Regions from separate parts of the Homo sapiens genome. Here region 1 is linked to region 2. The links come from fine-mapping of genetic effects on gene expression. A gene starts in region 2. The other region holds a variant in brackets. All regions are shown on one strand. Distances are from middle to middle. Region 1 holds the start of LOC102723335 (a long non-coding RNA gene). Region 2 holds the start of LINS1 (lines homolog 1).

Evidence for each region. PIP is the estimated chance that this variant, and not a neighbour inherited with it, causes the effect.
Region 1: its variant is fine-mapped to the expression of LINS1 in whole blood (TOPMed, PIP above 0.99).

What each region holds. Positions count from the first base shown.
Region 1 is chr15:100,556,980-100,568,121 of GRCh38, reverse strand. LOC102723335 (a long non-coding RNA gene) reads right to left here and starts at 9,456. Exons shown (of 3, transcript NR_135693.1): 1 at 9,300-9,456; 2 at 8,677-8,809; 3 at 8,323-8,487. It overlaps LINS1 (lines homolog 1), which reads left to right. Exons shown (of 7, transcript NM_001040616.3): 7 at 1-1,198. It also overlaps the pseudogene PRKXP1 and the pseudogene RNU6-181P. The variant G/C (reference allele first, on the strand shown) is at 5,753.
Region 2 is chr15:100,597,288-100,608,429 of GRCh38, reverse strand. It overlaps LINS1 (lines homolog 1), which reads left to right and starts at 6,246. Exons shown (of 7, transcript NM_001040616.3): 1 at 6,246-6,309. It overlaps ASB7 (ankyrin repeat and SOCS box containing 7), which reads right to left and starts at 5,841. Exons shown (of 6, transcript NM_198243.3): 1 at 5,384-5,841; 2 at 5,117-5,215. RefSeq lists silencers at 5,059-5,108, 5,559-5,818 and an enhancer at 5,989-6,328.

The DNA of each region.
Region 1 (11,142 bases), 40 kb after region 2:
TGACATGAATAATTATGTTCCATATTCTTGAGGGGAAGCCGTAAATTCCATTGTAATATGTTTGTGTAATAGGAGCAATAGCTATATTGTGCTGCGAAGTCTGGCATTAAGGCAGTCTAAAATATTGCCTGTACATTTTTTTTTAATGATCTCTTTGCAGAGAAACAGAACAAAGACTAAACCTACCGCACATTAAAATATATATTAAGGCTATGGTATTCGAAACAGTTTAGTACTTAATTCAGGTAGACATGGAAAAATCAGTGGAGCTAAATAGAAGGTTGCCGATTAAAATAACAGCGAAGTACCAGTGTTAGCCAAATAGCAATGCAAAGGTCAAAAGGTTTGCGTTTTAACATGCTGTCGGTGAGGCTATGCGTTAAGGCAGTTTCTACCGTAATTGAAAAAGCACGTCAAAGAATGTGTATTCAAGGATGCCACATAGTTTGTAAAAAATGTTAAGGTTTTAGAGTTTTACTAGAAATACCTGGTAAAGTAAGTCAGAATTTGTATAGTCAGTGGAATGGTAGATGCGTTCTATGCACGTTTGTGGATGTGAAACATCTCCAGTAAAAAACAAGTAAATACATGGGGCTTGCAATTATTTAGGGAAAGAAGCAGGGCGGGAGTAATACACATTCATATATATGCTTTTGTGCATGTATAAAATATGTATGTAAGACTACATAAGAAAGTCATAATAGTGGTTGCCTTGGGAGACAGGTCTGATGTGGAAGACAAAGTCTCATCTTTTTGTACTATTTTTAGTGGGATACATGCAGCACTGCATTAGGATGTTTCAATAACAGACCACATAGTACAGTGGTCCCATAAGACTATCAAGCCGTTATTTTTACTGTGACTGTCCTATGTTTAGGCATGTTTAGATACACGCATACTTACTATTGTGTTACAGTTGCCTACAGTATTCAGTACAGTAACATGCTGTGTACAGGTTTGTAGCCTAGGAGCAATGGGCTATACCATATAGCCTAGGTGTGTAGTAGGCTATGCCATCTAGGTTTGTTGAGTATACTCTGTGACATACATGACATGACAACAAAATTGCCTTACAGCTCATTTCTCAGAACATGTCCCTGTCATGTGACACATGGCTGTTTTTTGATGGAAATAACTGGGAAAAAAAAATCGACTCTTGTTCCTAAGGGTACATAAATGTTGAATGCATTATAACTCATGCTTATGCAGATGTGGTTTTGACTTGTGTTTCTCTATAAGGTTAGCAAGGAACTGTCAGCCCCTCATTACATGTAAAATGAGGGAAAAGCAATCTTACAGATATGCGAAGTTGGTGTTTCAGAATCTCTACATTTATAACTAACTCGAGTGTAAGTCAATTCATCACACACTCACTAAGCCCTGCTCTTGCTAAAGGTGACCCTTGGCTGGTGTGATCACTATCCTTGGCCTTTCTGAGCATCTAAGCGCTATTCCCAGAGTTACTTCTTAAAGGAACACAAAACTATTGATGCATGTCTGCACAGTGAATTCCCAGAGTACAACACAAGAGGAGTCTGTAACCTCACCCCTTCCAGTAAAAGAATATGGAAATACAAGTGAGCACATGGTGCTGTGCACCTGACTTATTTTAAAGCAGAAGAGATACAGAAAAGTGCACTATAAGTATACAGCTTGTTGAATTTTCAGAAACAGCACACCTGTGGAGCCAGTCCCCAGATCAAGAAATAGCATGAGGCACCCAGAAGTCCCTCTTGAATCCTCTCCCTGTCACTGTCCACCCCTGAAGGTAACTGTGTCATGAACTGAGACAACAGAGACAATCTTTGCCTGGTTTTCTCTTTCTTTTATAAATGGAGTCATAGATTATGTATTCTTTTGTTCAACATCATTTGGGAGTGTGTCCTGATTTATTTTTAAAATGTCAAGTACCTGGCCAGGCATGGTGGCTCACGCCTGTAATCCCAGCACTTTGGGAGGCTGAGGCGGGTGGATCACCTGAGGTCAGGAGTTCGAGACCAGCCTGGCCAACATAGTGAAACCCCGTCTCTACTAAAAATACAAAAAACCAGCCAGGTATGGTGGCACACACCCATAATCCCAGCTACATGGGAGGCTGAGGCAGGAGAATCGCTTGAACCCCAGAGGCAGAGGCTGCAGTGAGCTGAGATCGCTCCATTGCACTCCAGCTTGGGCAACAAGAGCAAAACTCCATCTCAAAAAAAAGTTAAGTACCCACATTTCAGCTATTATTAGTAACAAAATACTTTGACTCCTCATAATTCTCTGACACGCCTGATATGCTAGAACAGTGAGATTAGCAAACACTGGTCAAACAATAAATTGTATGGTAAACAGGTTATGCAGGGCCTTGTGCAACTGGCCCCAACCTGCTTCTCCAGGCTGTCTGTGGTTTTCTCCCCATCCACTGTTCCTTGCACAACTCTTGGCTCTTACATATTCATTCATCAAGCCCCATCTTCAGTGTTAGATTGTGAAGCCTTCCCCCATCCGTTCTTCACCATTCAATTCTGCATGCTCTATTCTCTGTGCTTTGCTCTTTCCTGTGTTGTATCATTTGTCACATTATATTTGAACCATAAGTCGACAGTCTTTCCATTTGCTAAGCTCTTTTTACATCGTTACATCATAGGCACAGCACAAATGTTGAATAAATGAGAAGTGATCCTTCTCCAGGAACTTGATAATCTACTGGAGGAGACAGATGTGCAGAGAATTATAATCATTATCCTTACCTTGCACTTCCTACTTGCTAGCCACTGTTAAGTGCTCTTCTAATCCTTGTAACAATGTTAGAAAGTAGGTCCTATTATCATTATTATTATTATTATTATTATTATTATTCTTGTTTTGCAGACATGGAGATTAAGTAGCTTGCCCAAGATCACCCAGCCAGTAAAGTGGCAGAGCTGAAGTAATGGATTCAGGTAGTTGGGTTCCAACCTCTTCTCAGACTCCCTACATAATTTATTCCTGCCTTCAAGATAGAAGATGAGGGATGTACACTATTAAAACTAAAATTGTTGCAGATTTGGATATGTGTGGTAGGTGGTATAAGTCACACTATAAACTTATACTGGAGTCAGGTCATCCAAGACCTAGGGTGATGTGCTATGGAGTATTGACTTTTCTATACACAGTGGACAGCTGATGAGGTTTTTGAGTAAATGACTGGTTTTGTATTTGAAGAAAGTGACTTTAGTGGCAATATAGTGGCTAGAGTTTATTGCCACAATAGAGTGGAAGAGTTTATTGCAGAAATCCCACTGAAGGCAAGGGCAATGGGAATGGGATCCAGGCCTGGCTGAATGCTCACATCAGCTTTTCTGCCCTCAGACACCCACTAACAACAAGAAAGAGGCCAAATCACAAGCAACAAGACACATGCGGACAAAATGGAAAAGGAGAAAACAATTTTGGAAGCTCAAAGGTAGGTAGGTTGAAAACTCGTAACCGCCCAGTGGGTTCATCTTTCCCACTCCCTAAACGAAGCCGATTTATCAAGACAGGAATTTCAATAAAGAAAGAGTAATTCACACAGAGCCGGCTGTAGGGGAGACTGGAGTTTTATTATAACTCAAATCGGTCTTTCCGAGCATTCAGGGATCAGAGTTTTTAAGGATAATTTGGTGGGAAGGGGATGTGAGTCAAGAGTGCTGATTGGTTGGGAAAGAGAAGAGATCAGGGAATTAAAGCTGTCTTCTTGTGCTGAGTCAGTTCCTGGGTGGGGGCCACAAGAACCAAGATCAGATGAGCCAGTTTATGGATCTGGGTGGTGCCAGCTGATCCATCAAGTGCAGGGTCTACAAAATAGTTCCTGACTTAGGAGCAGTTTAGGGAGGGTCAGAATCTTGCAGCCTCCAGCTGCATGACTCCTAAACCATAATTTCTAATCTTGTGACTAATTTGTTAATCCTACAAAGGCAGTCTCGTCCCCAGGCAAGAAGGGGATTTGCCTCTTATCTTTGTTTTAAACTATAAATTCCTCTCAAAATTAGTTCAGCCTATGCCCAGGGATGAACAAGGACAGCTTGGAGGTAAGAAGCAAGATGGAGTTGGTTAAGTCCGATCTCTTCCACTGTCCCAGTTACAATTTTGCAGTGGCGGGTTCAAACTAACTTAGTCGACCCAGGAACATTACATTCCTATCTGGAATGGGGAAAACTGAAAAACCTGACTTATGAGCTGGATTCTTCTGAAGGCTCAGGAGCTTGTAGTCTTGAGTACCATGCTGTACCATGGGGTGGTGGGTGGAAAAGCAATTCAGGAAACAATTACTTCTAGATCCTCTGCCCCATTCCATGTAGTTAGCCATTGCTCCCTCCACCACCTAGCAGATTAGAGGTTAATTCCGGGAGAGTGTGAAACAACAGGTCTTTGGACTGGGGAACACCAGACATAGCTGGAGATAGGAATAACATACTGAAAACAGGATTAATTAAACATTTACATACTAAATATAACCACCATCCTCCCTGGCCTTCTCCCCAACCCTATTGCCAAAACACTTCTAACTCTAAGTAGGAGGCTAGAAGAGACTTTTCTGGGGAATTTAACAAACCCAAGAAAAAAGATCTAAAGACACTGATACTGGGGTTCCCCAAATGAATTACCCAGCCAAATCACCCTACTATGAAGCCCATAGTGGCAAATATCACCATGTACATAGAGCTAACTGGCATTTAAGTGGCTCACTCTTACATATAATGTGAGTGAATAGCCAAGGATCATCAGGAATTAGGGGAAAGCCTCTAACCCAAAAGGCAGAGATCAAAACAAACACGAAACAGATTAAACAAAGAGGAAGTTAATTTATCAATACCCTCAAAGAAATTATAAAGGATACTACATAAAAAATATTCAGCGAGGGGCTGGGCATGGTGGCTTACACCTGTAATTCCAGCACTTTGGGAGGCCAAGGCAAGAGAATCACTTGAGCCCAGGAGTTTAAGACCAGCCTGGGCGACATCATGAGACTCTGTCTCTCCAAAAAAAAAACCTAAATAGTTGAGTATAGTAGTCCCAGCTACTTGAGAGGCTTGGCAGAAGGATGGTTTGAACCCAGGAGTTTGAGGTTACAGTGAACTACAATCGTATAATCGCACCACTGCACTCCAGCCTGGGTGACAGAGCAGAGCAAGACCCTGTCTCAAAAAAGAAAAAAATATTCAGTGGGGAAAAAAATACCTCTTATAAATTAATAATGTGATAGCAAAAATGAAAAAGTAGAAATGTAGTAAAAATAAGTTGAGGAAATCTAGATTTTACAGCAATAGGACAAAGAAATTAGAAAATAGGAGAGAGAGAGATGATATAATGTGAGAACTGGTCACCAAGGTCCAATAATTGAATAATAGAAGTATCAGAAAGAGAAAAAAGGACTGGAAAAGAGAAAGTATAAAAGAAATTCAAGGAAAGTTTTTAGAACTGAAAGACTTAGTCTTTAAATAATGTGTGCAAGTATAACTGGAAAAAAGAATTTAAAAAGGAGGAACAGGATCAACCTGAAATAAAGAGCCATCGTTTCACTGGCATGCTGAGATGCTGCTCTGTTTACTGAAATAAGAAAGTAGGAAGCCTTAGGAGGAAGAAAAGTTCAGTTCTCACCTGAGTGACTTCTGACACTGTTATCAGCACAGCGTGGCATCCAGCAGAGAGTTAGAAATGCTCTGTTGGAAATTAGAAGGACAGAGCCAAATATGAGTCATTTGTGTACAAGTATTATGAAAATCGTAGAAGAAAGTGTGATTGC[G/C]CTGAGAGTGGAGAGAGAAAAGGTGAGGGTGGGTCGGGGGAGTACTGGATAGAATAAGGAAAGTGAGGGAAATTTGAGGCAGGAGAACAGAAAATTCTATGAGGAAACTAAGAAAGGTTTTATAGAGCTTTGAGAAGGAAAATTTATGTGGGGTTTAGTATCTCTGAGAGCAACAGTGGGATGAGATCCGAGAAACCACCAGATGGTTTGACCCTTAGGAAGTAGCTGATGATGTTTAAGAGAGAAATTTTAGGTGGACTCAAGTGTGCACAGGAGGGGAAGAGGTAGAAACCAAGGATGGTGGTTTTCAATTTATTTGTATTCTCTGCACACAAATAATACTGGCATTTTGGGTTGCACCTTTGAAATGACAGGCTGAAAACAATACCATTCAAGTCAGAAATAGTTTTAACACAATCACCAAAGGCAATGTTCCAGAAATCCAAAATATCTCCCTGGGCACCAGCTGGACTTGCTGCTGTACCTCCTACCTCTTCCTTAACACAACCCACTAGGGCTGCACTTGGCAGACATGGACTGCCCAGATGTTTGGACACTTGACCTAAATATTAAACTTTAATTGGTCTTGATTGTCACTTATGACAGTATAAAAATTGTCTTGCTTTATCAAAATGCACATTCAAAAATTATGGTTGACAAAATGCCTTTTCTAACAGTAGGATCATAGATCAGACTAGCAAACCATTTCTGAGTTTTTCTGGTTATTTTAAAGAGGGTAGAACTGAACTCACATCAAAGCCTTTACAGTAAACACCATGTATCCCCTCTTAATTGCAAAGCTGGCCTATATATTTTTTTAAGATAAAGGAAAAGCAAACAGTGATCCCTTTCTAAGTTTGCAGTTCACAATGAACCTTACCAAGTAGTTGGAATGAACTGTAGTCCAGTTACTTACTGCATTGGGTACAATACATGCTTGTGTACACCCTGGATTGCTTGTGTTTTTCCTTTTCAGGATTTTTGCTTTGTTTTCAAAGTACACTTCTCTGATATTTATTTTAAATTTACTTCACATACTGTTTTTTTGCAATGGAATCTCACTATGTTGCCCAGACTAGTCTCAAACTCCTGGGCTCAAAGGATCCTCCTGCCTCAGCCTCCCAAGTAGCTGAGATTACAGGCACACACCACTGTCCCAGCAGTTCTCTGATATTTAGAAGCATTGAGATATGGAATGTGATCTGCCTGTGATTTTCTTTCCAGTGAGAATGGCTCAGGTGTTTGCTGTTTGGTAGAGCCTACCCAATCATTGAAGGCAGTAGAGTTGAAGCATGGTTTTACCTGAAAAATGTGCAATGGCACTATCCTGGCTCACCACAACCTCCACCTCCTGGGTTCAAGCAATTCTCCTGCCTCTGCCTACCAAGCAGCTGGTATTACAGGCATGCACCACCACACCCAGCTAATTTTGTATTTTTAGTAGAGACAGGGTTTCTTAGTGTTGGTCAGGCTGGTCTCTAACTCCTGACCTCAGGTGATCTGCCCACCTAGGCCTCCCAAAGTGCTGGGATTACAGGCATGAGCCACTGTGCCTGGCCATCTGAAAAGCACTTTCTATGCTTATATTGGCAGCACATATACTAAAATTGGAATGATACAGAGAAGATTAGCATGGCCCCTGCTCAAGGATGACATGTAAATTTATGAAGCATTTCATATTTTGTAACTTTAAAAAAAAAAAAAGGCACTTTCTAGGGGTGGCAATCAGAATGTCTGTGTGTTTTTTAAGTGCCTCAAGCCTCCTGTCAGACTCATTTCTCCCTTTGAGGCCTGTGAAGTAAGCACCCCAGAAGCACACTTATAATTGCTGATGACATCTTTTTAAGCTATTCAATAAATTATGAGGAAGTGCAGGTTTCCCCACAGCTAAACTTCTTTTATTTGCTAAGGACCATATATTGTCCATCTCCAAATCAACAGATATTTGTTTTTCTGCAAAACACAAAAGACTACTTGTGTAAAACAGAATTGGATTTTTAACTGTCAGTTTTCCTGAAAATTATCTTTTAATTTTTTTTCTGATTGTGCTATTTTTCTCCACAATAAAGAGAAAGGGTTCCCCTGACTCACTGGACTATTGACAAGTACATCATTTTTGTATCGCATAGCATTTTTTTTTTTTTTGAGATGGCATCTCATTCTGTTGCCCAGACTGGAGTGCAGTGGTGCAATCTTGGCTCACTGCAATCTCCACCTCCTGGGTTCAAGTAATTCTCCTGCCTCAGCCTCCCAAGTAGCTAGGATTACAAGCGTGCACCACCATGTCCGGGTATTTTTTTTTTTTGTATTTTTAGTAGAAATGGGGTTTCACTGTGTTGGCCAGGCTGGTCTCAAACCCCTGACCTCAATTGATCCACCCCCCTTGGCCTCCCAAAGTGCTGGCATTACAGGCGTGAGCCACCACGCGTGGCTCACATAGCATTCTTTGCTTGAATATAGCATATGCCCTCTTGATTGTGTGTCATTTTTAATATGTACAATAAACAATTTGACGATTACATGGAAGGGAAAATGGGTGACGAAAATAAAATTAATTGGCAACAGCCTTTCCACCATACAAGTGAGTTTTATTACAAATTGGTAATAGAATCAGGGTAACATTTGGGGGTGATCACAAATAGCTGAGTCTTGGAAAGGGCTGTATGGACAGAAGGCATGTCAGCGCAGCTTCACCTGGGGATTTGGAAACAGGGCTCAACAGCTCTCTACACTTCCTGGATTGGTAAGAACAGAGAAGAAGCCACCAGGATTTCATCAGAGGCTTTTTTTTTAAACAGCATAGTAAGAAGTAAATAAATAGTACTGCTTATTTTGTTACTCAATAGTCTGCTGTGGAGGATGGCCAAGGCCTGCCTCTAGTGAAGATGTGTCATTCCAGTTGTTATAGGCCAATGGTGACATACCCAATGTGGGAGGCTGGATTCACAAACACAGCAGCATGCCATTTGGAATAGTGATATGTAGAACAGACGATGCTGGGATGCTTAGGCAGTCCAAATTGTCCACCTTCACTGTGCTACTTGAGTTGTGAATCAGCTGGTAAAAAACAAACAAAAACACCGTAGAGCACGCTGGCGGCTACCAAGCTGGAGGAGGCGGCGGGCGCGAGACTGGGAATGCGCAGGGCCCCCTCCCTGCCCCCACAGCCTGGGCCACGGGCCCCATCTTCCCCGCTGCTGCGCGGCACTCAGTGCCCACCCCCCGACGAGGCCGGCAGCTGCTCCCACCCGGGGGCGTTGTCAGCTGCGCCGGGCCGCGCGCTGGGAGGCGAGGGCACGCATGGGGAGCCTCCGTTGATGCCACCACCACGCCGCCCTCCGAGGCTGCGTCCCGGGAAGCCCGGCTACCCGAGCGCTCCGGCCTGGCCCGGTGCCCCGGACCTGAGTGTGTCCGCATGGAGGAGCCCCGACTGGCCCAGGCGGCCGTGGCGGAGAGCGACCCCCGAGAGGTGTGGGAGGAGACCCCCGGCTGGGCACCCGCATTCTGCCCCAGCCCCAAGGCCTGGTCGCCGGAGCCGCCTGCCCACCGCCTGCAGGACTTCGACACACTGGCCACCGTGGGCACTGGGACGTTCGGGCGGGTGCACCCGGTGAAGGAGAAGACCGCCAAGCATTTCTTCGCCCTCAAGTTGATGAGCATTCCTGATGTCATCCGCCTGGCAGGAGCAGCACGTGCACATTGAGAGGTGTGTCCGGAAGGAATCATCCGCCCGTCCCTCATCTGCGTCCGGAAGGAATCCCTTCCTCATCTGCGTCCGGAAGGAAGTCATCCGCCCGTCGCTCATCTGCGTCCGGAAGGAAGTCATCCGCCCGTCCCTCATCTGCGTCCGGAAGGAAGTCATCCGCCCGTCCCTCATCTGCGTCCGGAAGGAAGTCATCCGCCCGTCGCTCATCTGCGTCCGGAAGGAAGTCATCCGCCCGTCCCTCATCTGCGTCCGGAAGGAAGTCATCCGCCCGTCCCTCATCTGCGTCCCGAAGGAATCATCCGCCCGTCCCTCATCTGCGTCCGGAAGGAAGTCATCCGCCCGTCCCTCATCTGTGTCCGGAAGGAAGTCATCAGCCCGTCCCTCATCTGCGTCCGGAAGGAAGTCATCCGCCCGTCCCTCATCTGCGTCCGGAAGGAAGTCATCCGCCCGTCCCTCATCTGCGTCTGGAAGGAAGTCATCTGCTCGTTCCTCATCTGCGTCCGGAAGGAAGTCATCTGCTCGTTCCTCATCTGCGTCCGGAAGGAAGTCATCCGCCCATCCCTCATCTGCGTCTGGAAGGAAGTCATCCACCCGTCGCTCATCTGCGTCCGGAAGGAAGTCATCCGCCCGTCCCTCATCTGCGTCCGGAAGGAATCATCCGCCCGTCCCTCATCTGCGTCTGGAAGGAAGTCATCCGCCCGTCCCTCATCTGCGTCCTGAAGGAAGTCATCCGCCCTTTCCTCATCTGCGTCTGGAAGGAAGTCATCCGCCCGTTCCTCATCTGCGTCCTGAAGGAATCATCCACCCGTTCCTCATCGGCGTCCCGAAGGAAGTCATCCGCCCGTCCCTCATCTGCGTCCGGAAGGAATCATCCGCCCGTCCCTCATCTGCGTCTGGAAGGAAGTCATCCGCCCGTCCCTCATCTGCGTCTGGAAGGAAGTCATCCGCCCGTCCCTCATCTGCGTCCTGAAGGAATCATCCGCCCGTCCCTCATCTGCGTCTGGAAGGAAGTCATCCGCCCGTCCCTCATCTGCGTCTGGAAGGAAGTCATCCGCCCGTCCCTCATCTGCGTCTGGAAGGAAGTCATCCACCCGTCCCTCATCTGCGTCCTGAAGGAATCATCCACCCGTTCCTCATCGGCGTCCCGAAGGAAGTCATCCGCCCGTTCCTCATCTGCGTCCTGAAGGAATCATCCACCCGTTCCTCATCGGCGTCCCGAAGGAAGTCATCCACCCGTTCCTCATCTGCGTCTGGAAGGAAGTCATCCACCCGTCCCTCATCTGCGTCCTGAAGGAATCATCCGCCCGTCCCTCATCTGCGTCTGGAAGGAAGTCATCCGCCCGTCCCTCATCTGCGTCTGGAAGGAAGTCATCCGCCCGTCCCTCATCTGCGTCCTGAAGGAATCATCCGCCCGTCCCTCATCTGCGTCTGGAAGGAAGTCATCCGCCCGTCCCTCATCTGCGTCTGGAAGGAAGTCATCCGCCCGTCCCTCATCTGCGTCTGGAAGGAAGTCATCCACCCGTCCCTCATCTGCGTCCTGAAGGAATCATCCACCCGTTCCTCATCGGCGTCCCGAAGGAAGTCATCCGCCCGTTCCTCATCTGCGTCCTGAAGGAATCATCCACCCGTTCCTCATCGGCGTCCCGAAGGAAGTCATTCGCCCGTTCCTCATCTGCGTCCTGAA
Region 2 (11,142 bases):
ACATTGATACAAATAACTGATTCGATAAATAAAGGGGGAGAAACACATCTGTTGTTCAGAATTCCAAATAATTTGTATAGGTAGTCTCTCCTCAAGGTGGTGACAAACATGTTAATATAAGATGTTAGTAGGAGAAACTGAGTATCGAGCATGTAGGAACTCTGCACAGCCTCAGTAATTGTTCTGTAAATCCAAAGCTTTCCTACAATAAAGTTTATTTTAAAATGCAAATCAGTGTCCCCAGTGATGAGCCTCACACATTGCCACAAATGAATATGCCACCACTTTTCACGAGCTACATCTACATTTCAAGAGTGAACATCACTGGACATCTCACTTCCAAGTGTGTCCTCAGCACCCCTTACTTCCCATAAGAAGTAAACATGACCCAACATAGCTTCAAGCCTGAAGAATCCTTGTGGTTGTTGCTGGCTTCCAACTATCCACCGCCACTTCCATGGAGGCAGCTGGAAGTGTCAGGGAAGACGGCATGAGAGCTGAGCAGAATAGGAAATGGTGTTAATTTATTAACAATATCAAGAAAAGGCCTGGTGGTAAAAGATGAAGTGGCCAAACTATTTCTCCCAACAAGAAAGATTCACAGGTGGTAGCAACTTGTGCTAATTCCATATGAGCTCCTTCAGTCAAACAAACAAATGTCTACAGAATGCTTGACACTTAACGTGGCACAGTGATAGGGTTTGGCCACAGGTAGCACCTCCAGGTGGTATTCCAATAGAGTTCTGCATACTTAAAATGAATTTTTTAAAATCCCAGACATTTTAAGATTATTTTTCTCTTTTCTGAAAATACCAAGTGCTATAAACAATAACCACAGGTTTAAACCAAAAAAGTACTCCCTGCATGTACTAGTGCATCAACGTTTACCAGAAAAAAACATACACACACGTCATGCACACATGATCCCTGTCAGCTACACTGCTTTGAATTACGACAGAAAATAATTTATTACAAAAGACCCCCAAATAGTCAAAAGCATCAACAAGTAATTTCCTCCTGGTGTTACTTTATGAGAGCTGCGCCTGACAGAGTCGAGTCACGTGTATAAATGAAGAAAAGACTATGGAGCTGAAAAGCAAACACAATATCTAGTGGTAAATATGTCTATTAAAAAACAACAGAGGAAGTCCAGAGATGAGAATGGAAGAAAGCCTATTTTCCCTCAGGGAGTTTATTAAAAAACTGATAGCTCATGGAAGTCACCTATAAAAAGAAAAGGAATATAGCAAAGGAAGTAATTTTCTTTTTTTTTTTTTTGAGACGGAGGCTCGCTCTATTGCCAGGCTGGAGTGCAGTGGTGCGATCTCGGCTCACTGCAACCTCTGCCTTCAGGGTTCAAGCGATTCTCCTGCCTCAGCCTCCTAAGTAGCTGGGACTACAGGAGCGTGCCACCACACCCGGCTAATTCATGTATTTTTAGTAGAGACGAGGTTTCACCATGTTAGTCAGGATGATCTCGATCTCTTGACCTTGTGATCCGCCCGCCTCGGCCTCCCAAAGTGCTAGGATTACAGGTGTGAGCCACCGCGCCCGGCCAGGAGGTAATTTTGTAAGTTATGTATGTTTAGTTATGTTTTTGTGGACTCAGGAGCTACTGATACTCTGAGGGTATGATCTTCAGAAATTTTATTCTAGCTTTCACAGTCACAAGGAAAAAAAAAGCAAACAAACAAGGAAGACTTTCTTTTCCACTTGGGGTCAAAAGAAAAGAATCTAGGCTTCCAAGCTTTAATACTATTGACCATATTAAAAACTACTAATTTAGAAATTCAAGTACATTACCATCTAATTTCCATATAGATGCCAAGTGAAGTTCATTTAGTTAAACCCAAAACTTCTTGCTTCACATAGTTAAGTCTATATGATAGAACAGCGTGAAGAATAAAATAAACATAAAACAAAATATGCTTAAGACCTGTCCGAAGTTACAAAACCTTCACCAAATTTGACCATATTTCCCAAATCTCCTTTGGCATAAATGATTAGACATTAATGACTTTTTGCATATTATTATCATTAAAAGTCCACACATTTCTGATTAAGTGATGCAAACTGAACTGTGCTTTCTGATGTCACATAAACTTAGCAACAAGATAATGGCTTATTACTCAAAGAAAGAAATAAGCATTTCTTTGCAAAGTAAACAAAAATACATGCTGGTAAGAAAATAAATGCAATCAGCAACTCCGACGACATTGGGTCTGAGAAAAAAAAAACAATCCTTCAATGGTTCACATTCACAAGATCTAAGAGGGAAGATGGATGGAAAAACACTACACGGCCGTACCAAAACGGAGAACATGGCTGAGATGCCTGTTCACAAGCTCTACTGATATGATCAGGAGCCTGGAACCCAAAATAAGGTATAAGTGTTATTTTAGTGTCACTCAACAAAGTATAGCATAGTGGTTATGATCCAAAACAAATAAAGGTATTAGTATTTCCTCCAAATTACTGGGCCTCCATATAACATAAGGATTTATTACCATGCACAACTTATCCATGACCCACATAAATTCCAGCAGAGAAACCAATAATTTTCATGAAGTGTGGATGAAGCAACAGAAGAAATTTTGGACTTATCCAGACCCAACTCAAAGCTTAAATCACAAGTATTATAATGATGAGGTCCTGTCAATATTATCTTATTAACCTAGGTCTGCCAACACCATCTTTGTAGCCTCATGTGTCAATTCCTAGAAAGTTTGCAAGAAAGGAGACAATCATCCTACGTAGGGAGGGCATTCAGGGGATTATGATGTGGAAGGCTGAAAGTCAGGTAACAGATATGCCCATATAAATCATATCTGGCTTTAGACTTTTTAGGGATGGTGTGTATCTCTATGTCACCAAAGTTAAACGTGAACAAATTAAAGAGATACTGTATGTGTCATAGTATTAACTAATTGTAAATGACATCACTTTATGTGTAAAGAATGTAAGTACTGGCCACAGTATACTAAAGATGCATCATTGCATATCTTCAATTAAAATCAATTATTCTCCCTACGTGATTATAAATCTATATTTGGTGACGAAATAAATTGGATTTTTTTTAAGCCACATGATTGGCAATAGAATTAATACAAAGCTAACTGCCAGGTTAAAAAATGTAAGCTACCTAACTAGCCATGTTGGTAAATAAATACCCAAATTAAATATTCTAAATGCCTGGTATAATCTAGACCAAATACTCTCAGTCATTCTGATATTAGAAACATGACAGATGTTGACAATTTACACATATTCCCTAATCTTAGAAAAACTATTAAAAAATGAGATGATCCATGAAATACGATTTAAGCAATGAGAATGAACTGGCTGAGAGCCAGAGTAAAGACTTATCCTCTCTTACCTTATGTGCTGGACTAGCCACAGACTCCTTCCCTTTACCATCTCAGGTGAAACTACTCTTTAGAAATGAAAGCGTCCTAGAGTTACATGTAAAGCTGAAAAAATATTTAACTGAGAGGCTTGAATACAAAACACAGTACTTCATTTTGATCTTTAGAACATACTTCAAATATTTTAGCATTTTTTAAAAGTTCTGAAGTAATCATTAGGCCATCTCCCTGACAACTTCCATACTTACATAATAAAAATTAGCCTTTAAAGATTTCCGGGTAGCTTTTACTGAAATGATGTAGTCTAGTACTCCTGATTCCCTACATATACATACAAAAGCTGCCCTAAGTTTTCAACAGGGAACAGTCATTGGTAGATACTGATTCTAAATCCTATTCCCTAGAATCTCTTCTTTTGGCATGCAGTTCCATGTCTCAAGAATATGCATACCTCAGATCCCCTTAAAAGCTATGTCTTTATCTCTTTAGCTATGTCTTAAGAATTAACAGAATCAGTAAAGATACTAATTTCTTTTTGTGGAGGGCAGAAAGTCCAGTGGAACATAGGAAATCAAAAATATTAACTTCTGCTATTTTAAGCACTTCCTTGTAACAAAAATTCCCTAAACAATTTGGGATATTAAAATAACTCAGATTAACAAGTCACTTTATACTTTTGCTACTGGATGTTAAAAAAGTCATCCATTTGGCTAATTTTGGAATTAAACCTTGTATAATTTCCATGCTTATATCCCCCCTTTAGGAATTACACTAATGTCCTAAGTTTACTTTCAGAGCATTTTCAGAAGCAGCAACAAAATATGGCAGCAGAAATGTGATCACATGAATTAGATGCTTAAATTTCAATCCAGCAAACTCTACGTAAAAGTTTTAAAATGAGAAATCTTTTTTATAGAGTGCTAAAATTAAGACCCAGATATGTAAACACACCAAAAGGTTCCTTTGTTTTTAAATTCCTGAGTCAAACGATTAATAAGATATTGTGCAAATTTTTAAAAGTTCTCCTAGAAAATCTGAGGTGTAAGAAACATTGTATCTTTATAAGTTTCAAAGCCCATCCACATTTGTCACACACAAACACACAGAAAGCCCAAAGAGTTAATTATGCCTAAGTGCTTCAGGGTAATAATGTTGTCTTCATACCATTCACACTCTTAAGGTACACAGGTTGGCTTTCTAGTAGGAAATAAAATCAAACTATTTTCTGAAACTCATAAATCTCAGGCCAATAATTTACCTTTCTCTACCAAATCGTTGTCAGTTAGATAACTCAAAAGATTTTTCTGATGCAGGTAGAAGAAAGGTGATAGGAAAGAGTAAGGGGGAAAACAGTAAATTGTGGTTTAATTAAAAAGGAAAGTCATTCAGAATTAACAAGCAATTAACAAGGAATTGAGGAATTCCTATGAGAGTAAGGAAGGGAGGGTAGCTACAAAAAGGTCTCAAAGCCTCAGAGCAGAGTAAATGGCACAGTGTACCAAAAGATAATGAAAAACACAGAAACACACTGTACAGAAAGAAAGTGGGAAAATACTGTCCTGGGTAGAGAAGTTATAAAATGTTAAGTATCAGGCACGGGTAATGTTTTTGTTTTTCCTGGGAAACTGGGGGTGGGGGTGGGGGGGGTAGGAAAGGTTGCATTCCCAGGCAACCACCCTGAAAATAAACCACTGCTTAATGAGGTAGGGGCCAGGAATAAACAACGGGGGAGGGGAGGGCTGGCTCATTACCTTTACAGACGATGCTGGTCAGAGGCACTGTGCCTTCTGCTTCTCTGATAGGTGGGCAGACCTCTTCCTGCTTTCGCGTCTTCTTCAGCCAGCTCAAACCTAGAAAAACAGAAACCAGTGAGTGGTGTAGTGTCTCAGAGGTGGGGAGGGGGGAGCTCAGGAAAGGGGCTGGAGAGTGGCAAGGGCAGGCAAGAAAAAGCAGAGATTTTCCTCCCTCCTACCCTCCCAGCCAGCACTCTTCCCCTCGGGGGAAGTAAAGGACTTTACCTGTCTCCTCAGCTGCTGCTTCTCTTCCTCCTTTCAGCCTCCTCTACACTCACCAACTTCTCCATTGAAGAAATACCCCAGGCAGGGCCGGACCCTGGTGTTCCTGATCCTCCTCGGTGCCTCACGGCCCCAGCCCGGCGAACATCCGAACAGCCGAGAAGGCAGGAGGTGGCGATCCCGGCCGCCGGGCAGCCTTGGGGCAGAGGTGCAGGGAGGCAGGGAGGAAGTCCTGGCTCGGGTGGGGGGGCAGTCCCGGTCCAGGGCTCGGAGCAGGGGGCTGCCGCGCTCCGGGCCGGAGGCTTCCAGCTACGGAGGGACCCAGGAGGTCTCGGGACGGCGAGGTCCCAGGTCATACGGGGCCCGAAGTGCCAGCCGTGGGGTCTCCGGACAGGGGGCTTTCGGGATGCACTTTGCACTGGGCCACCCCCGCCCCCTCCCTTCAGCACTTTGGGGTCACTGGGATGGGACCAAGCCTTCAACAACCAATCAGCGCCCGCAGTGGAGCCTGAGCCTGGAGCCGTAAACCAGGTCCGGGATGGGTGGGGGTGGAGGGAGTAGGGACGACTTGGTTGGTTGGTTGCTTCCTTCTCTCCTCCTTACCCCCGGCAGCCCCCACCCTCTGCCTGCCGTAAAGTTGCCTTTGCATTCGCGACAGTTAAGGGAGGCGTGCCGAACGGGGCAGAGATTCGTCTCCGATTGGTCTCACTCACTTCCCCTTACAGCTTCCCCGTGGTGGCTTCCGAGGCTCCGCCCCTGGCGGAGGGACTCAAAGCCGTTGCTAAGAGACACTATTCGCCGAAGGCGGTCTCTGCGCATGCGGGAGGAGGTGCCAGCTTGTACTTTCTGTGAACTACGGTGGCCCAGAGCGGGCATTTGTGTTCCCTCAAATGGCGGTGTGAAGAGAGTTCGCCTGAGCCAGATCCCAGGCAGGTAACCGGGACCGGCCGCCGTGCTGGCAGCAGGGGAGGCACGAGTGCGGCCAAATGAGAGCCTGGTTCAGGGCTTAAGGTTGGGAGGGCGGCAGGCTCCAGGAAGCGAGTAGAGGGGTGCCTTGTTTCTCCGCCCCTGTTCAGCGCTTGTCAGACGCAAGTGCCCGGTCTTGGCGCGGCTGTCGGTCCTTGAGACCCCGTTAGCTTCCAGGCTGGCAATGCCTCGCCTGAAGTGGGAGAACGGACTCTCTTTGGGATAGCGATGACGATCCAAGGACCTTCCTGAAAGGATAGCAACGTTGGCGGGTTCCTGTGAATGAATGGAGAGGGGTCGTGGGGAAAACGCGAGATAGACTGATCAAGACACGTTTGTTAAGCACTTTATTCATTAGCAAGTGTTTACTGGCCACTGTTCTAGTCCCTGGGGAGACAACAGTGAACAAGATAGTGATTTCGGGGAAACAAACACAAAATTATCAGATAGGGATGGGTTATATGAGGAAAATCAAGCAGAATGGTGGAATCGATTTTGACCAGGACGTGATGGGCTGTATTAGATAGGTAGTGCTATGGTGTGAATATCTGTCCCCTTCAAAACTCATGTTGAAATTTAATCCCCAATGTGGCAGTACTGAGAGGTAGAGTCTTTAAGAGGTGGTTGGACCGTGAGGGTTCTGTCTTCACGAGTGGATTGATCTATTCATGGATTAATGGGTTATCACGGAGGTAGAACTGGTGGCTTTTTAAGGAGAGACTTGACAACTCGTGAGCCTGCTCAGCCCCCTGGCCACGTGATACTTTGCGGTGCTGTCTCGTGGTCCGTCAGTCTTAGACTTCCCAGCCTCCAAAACTAGACAATAAATTACTTTTCTTTATAAATTACCGAGTTTTAGGAATTATTTTATAAGCAACAGGAAACGGACTAAGACAGATAGGAAAGGTCTCTGAGGAAGTGACATTTGAGCAGGGATCTGAATGACAAAGAGCCAGCCATGCCAAGATCTAGGGAGAGAATTTTGCCAGCAGAGAGAATTAGAAATGCAAAGCCTCTGATGCTAGAATATGCTTTGCTGTTTACAGGAACTGCCAGAAAGAAGGCTAGGGTAGCTGAAGCAGAGTGGTAGGAAAATGACTGGTAATGAGACTGGGGAGTGGGGCATAGAGATGAGAAGACGCCGAGAGTCAGATCTTGAAGGGCCTTGGTAAGCCTTGTTTAGGAGTTTGGACTGTATCCTAAGGAAAGTGGATTGGTTTTTCAGAAGGAAGTGGGTGTAGGGTGGGCCTGGATACAACCACTTTGGAAGGGATCGGTTGCAGTTGTCCAGAGTAGAAGTGCAGTAGTGGCAGTGAAGATAGATTCAGCTTTTTAATTTTTGTCCCATTATACTTCCCAGCAATCATATTTCATAATTTCAACTTTCTAAATTTCCATTTCTTCTTGAAATTAGTAGCTGAATTATAATTAGAAACAACTTATTCAGGACTATTAAATGCTATCAATTTTTAGTAGCTTTCGGTCTTTCGATTCTACCATGATTTCTCCCTGTTTTTTTTTTTTTTTTTTTTGCTTAACAGCAGGACTCCAATGTAAACAAATAAAATAAAAGCGGTATTTTATTAGTATTGTTAAATGAAATGTATAGGAAGCCATTGTTTTAGATTAAACCCCTGCACTAGGCCCAACAGACCAGGCCAAATCAGAATGGAGTTGCTGGTGCTAGGTGTCACATAATCAAACAACTTAGAAATGGGCCAGTTGTCAAAAAATCCAGAAGATACACAGCAAGGAGTCAAGGAGGCCTGATTTACCTGAGCCAGCATGATAAAGAAGTCTCTCCTCCATTTGGTCTCTGTGAGGAAAGTTTAACTTTGAAATGACCAATCTGTCTTTTATTCTCTTTTTGCTTCTTCAACCGTTTTCAGCCCACCTCTGCTCAGCTAATCAGAACACCGTTTCTAAATTTTTAGTTGAGATGCTGCCAGATTCATAAATTGCTAATAAAAGCCATTTACATCTTTAAATTTGTTCAAATTTTGTTTGTTTTTGTTTTTGAGATGGAGTCTCCCTCTGTCGCCCAGGCTGGAGTACAGTGGTGCGAGCTTGGCTCACTGCAACCTCCGCCTCCCAGGTTCAAGCAGTTCTCCTGTCCCAGCCTCCTGAGTACCTGGGACTACAGACACACTCCACCACACCCAGCTAATTTTTGTATTTTTAGTGGAGATGGGGTTTTACCACGTTGGCCAGGCTGGTCTCGAACCTCTGACCTCAGGTGATCCACCCGCCTCGGCCTCCCAGAGTGCTGGGATTACAGGTGTGAGCCACTGCACCCAGCCTCAAATTTTGCTTTTTAACAGTTCAAATATAATGTACAAGTTCAGTTTTATAACATTTACTAATTATAGAGTCAAGAAGTTTTGAACTCCCAAAAAGAAGGAAAAAGAGGGAGAGAGAAATGAATAAATATGTAAATTGTTGTGGAGAACATATTCATTCTTATAGCAGACTCGGCACCCATGCAATTCATATGGTGTATTTGCTAAATGATAGTTAAGTAGAGAGATGGGGGCCTAAGAACTTGTTGGTGAAGAGCCTAGAAACAGAGTTGTCTCCTAATTCCTAGTTCTTTGTATTTCTGGCCATTTGTTTTTCATTAAAAATCCTGCCTTTGAGTTAAACAACCATTTTCAAATGATTGAAGTACATGATTATATCATAGCCAAGTAACATCATATTGTCAAAGTTTCACAGAATGTGCTACTAGGTAATTTTAAATTGCTTTATTGAATTGGTGCTATCAGATTTGCTAATTTTTATAACTTTTCAATGATGTAAAAGCAGTTTAGATTGCGGAATATTTATAACAAGTTAATATTGATTAGGTTTTAACAGATACACTTCATTTCCCATTAACTTAGTTAATAATATAAAACTCACAAAAATGGGAACATCTTACAACATATAAGTGAAATAATTTGGGATAAGTATTCATGAAGCTTGATTCATGAAACCCTGACTCAATCAGAATTGAGTTTATTTCTTGAGTAGAAAGAGACTTTGTCATTGGAAAAATGCCCCAGCACCACTGCAGCAATTCTGATTTAGCTGGTCTCTAGGGAGTCCAAGGCTCATGGGTTTTTCCTAATGTTCCAGTGATGTCAGTGTCAAGGTCAGATTCCAAGGTCAAGGACCACTGCCCAGGAGGCTGTGTCCTGGCCCATAAAGCACTTGGTGGTGGAGAGAATGAGCAGGTTATGCTCTAGTTGGCAGCAGGCAGTGTTCTGGGCCAGCAGGTTGTGTCTGGGGATCTTGGTGTAATAAAGAGGGCCACCATAAAGACAGATGCAGCACAGTTTGGAGCCCATCATTTGCCTTGTTAGCCCAACTTAGTTCAGCTGTACCTGGCAGAAAAGGCGATGGGGCTGGGTAGAGAAATTGTATTTCAGACCTTGGTCATCACAGCAAAAAGAACGCCGAAAGAAAGGAAGCTAACTGGAGGCTTTTGAGTTCCTTATAGTTCTTGCCCTGGTAATTTAAGGGATTTTGGTCTTCTATGGTATTCTACCACAGCCATTTTAAGATGGTGCTTCAGTGTGTGTTGCTTCTGTCAAGTACGTTGTCAGATGTGTCATACGGTAAAGACTGAATGAGCTCAGAACTTAATCCCTGCTATGGATACTACTGTTTATAATTCTTTGATACTACATTTTTATTATAATTTAAAATTCACAACTTAAAATATTACATGGTGTTTTTAAAGTTTTTTGAGATCAAAACGGTACTAAAATATACTTTGGGACTGATTTTAGGATTGTTACATATACACTACTAAATTAATCTTCAGCCAGGAATGTATTCCACAAATATAAGTACCTACTGTGTATCAAATGCTGTGCTAGGAGCTAGGGAAGAACCAAGCAGACAACTCTAAATCATAAAAATCATTGCACAAATCGTTAAAGTATAATTGTGACACATTCTGTAAGACAGGGCACCAGAGCTGGAAGACAGTATCACCGGAGGACCTACCCCTGCCAAAGAAAGTCATATTTAAGCCTAAAACAAAAGGGAAAGTGGGTGGAAGGAGAAGCATTGTATCAAGGCCCAGAGGCTGGAAGGAACCTTTCAAGGTTAATAAATAAAGACATATTGACATCTTCCTACTTGAGTTATACAGGTGTTTTCACATATAAGCCATTTAATTTTTGCAAATCTTTGAGTATGCTACTTGGCTGAGGTAGGTAGATAATCTCGTTTTATCAATTGAAAAATCAGATCTTGTCTGTGTACAGAATTTAGGAGTTCAGTAAAATCTAGACAGTATCACATCTATAGACAGTTCCTCAACGCTACCCTGCCACTGGTGGCGGGTTTGTGGGGGCAGATGGAAAAGGGACAAGGCATAGACTGGAAAAGGGGAAGACTAAGGAAAACCTTTCAGTGAAATATTTCATTCTGAAGTACCACTTAAAACATACAGTTATAATTTAGCAACTAAGTATAGAAAAGTATTCATATTGATACACTGGATAATTTCCATTTATTTTAAAAATGCTTAGCATTAGCATATAAAAACCTAAGGAGCTGAGATTCCTCATCAATAAATCAAGTAGATTGTGCAGTGGTTCTCAAAATGTAGTCCCTGGTTCAATTCTTGGGCCCTCCCAGACCCACTAAATCAGAATCTCCAAAGTGGGCCCAGCCATTTGTGTTCTAATAAGCCTTCCAGGTAATTCTGATGCTACGGTTTGAGAATTATCTCTAAATTATCTCTTGAGATTTTTTCTAGTATGAACACGTTATGATTCTAATGTCCAGCATTAATTTGTGCT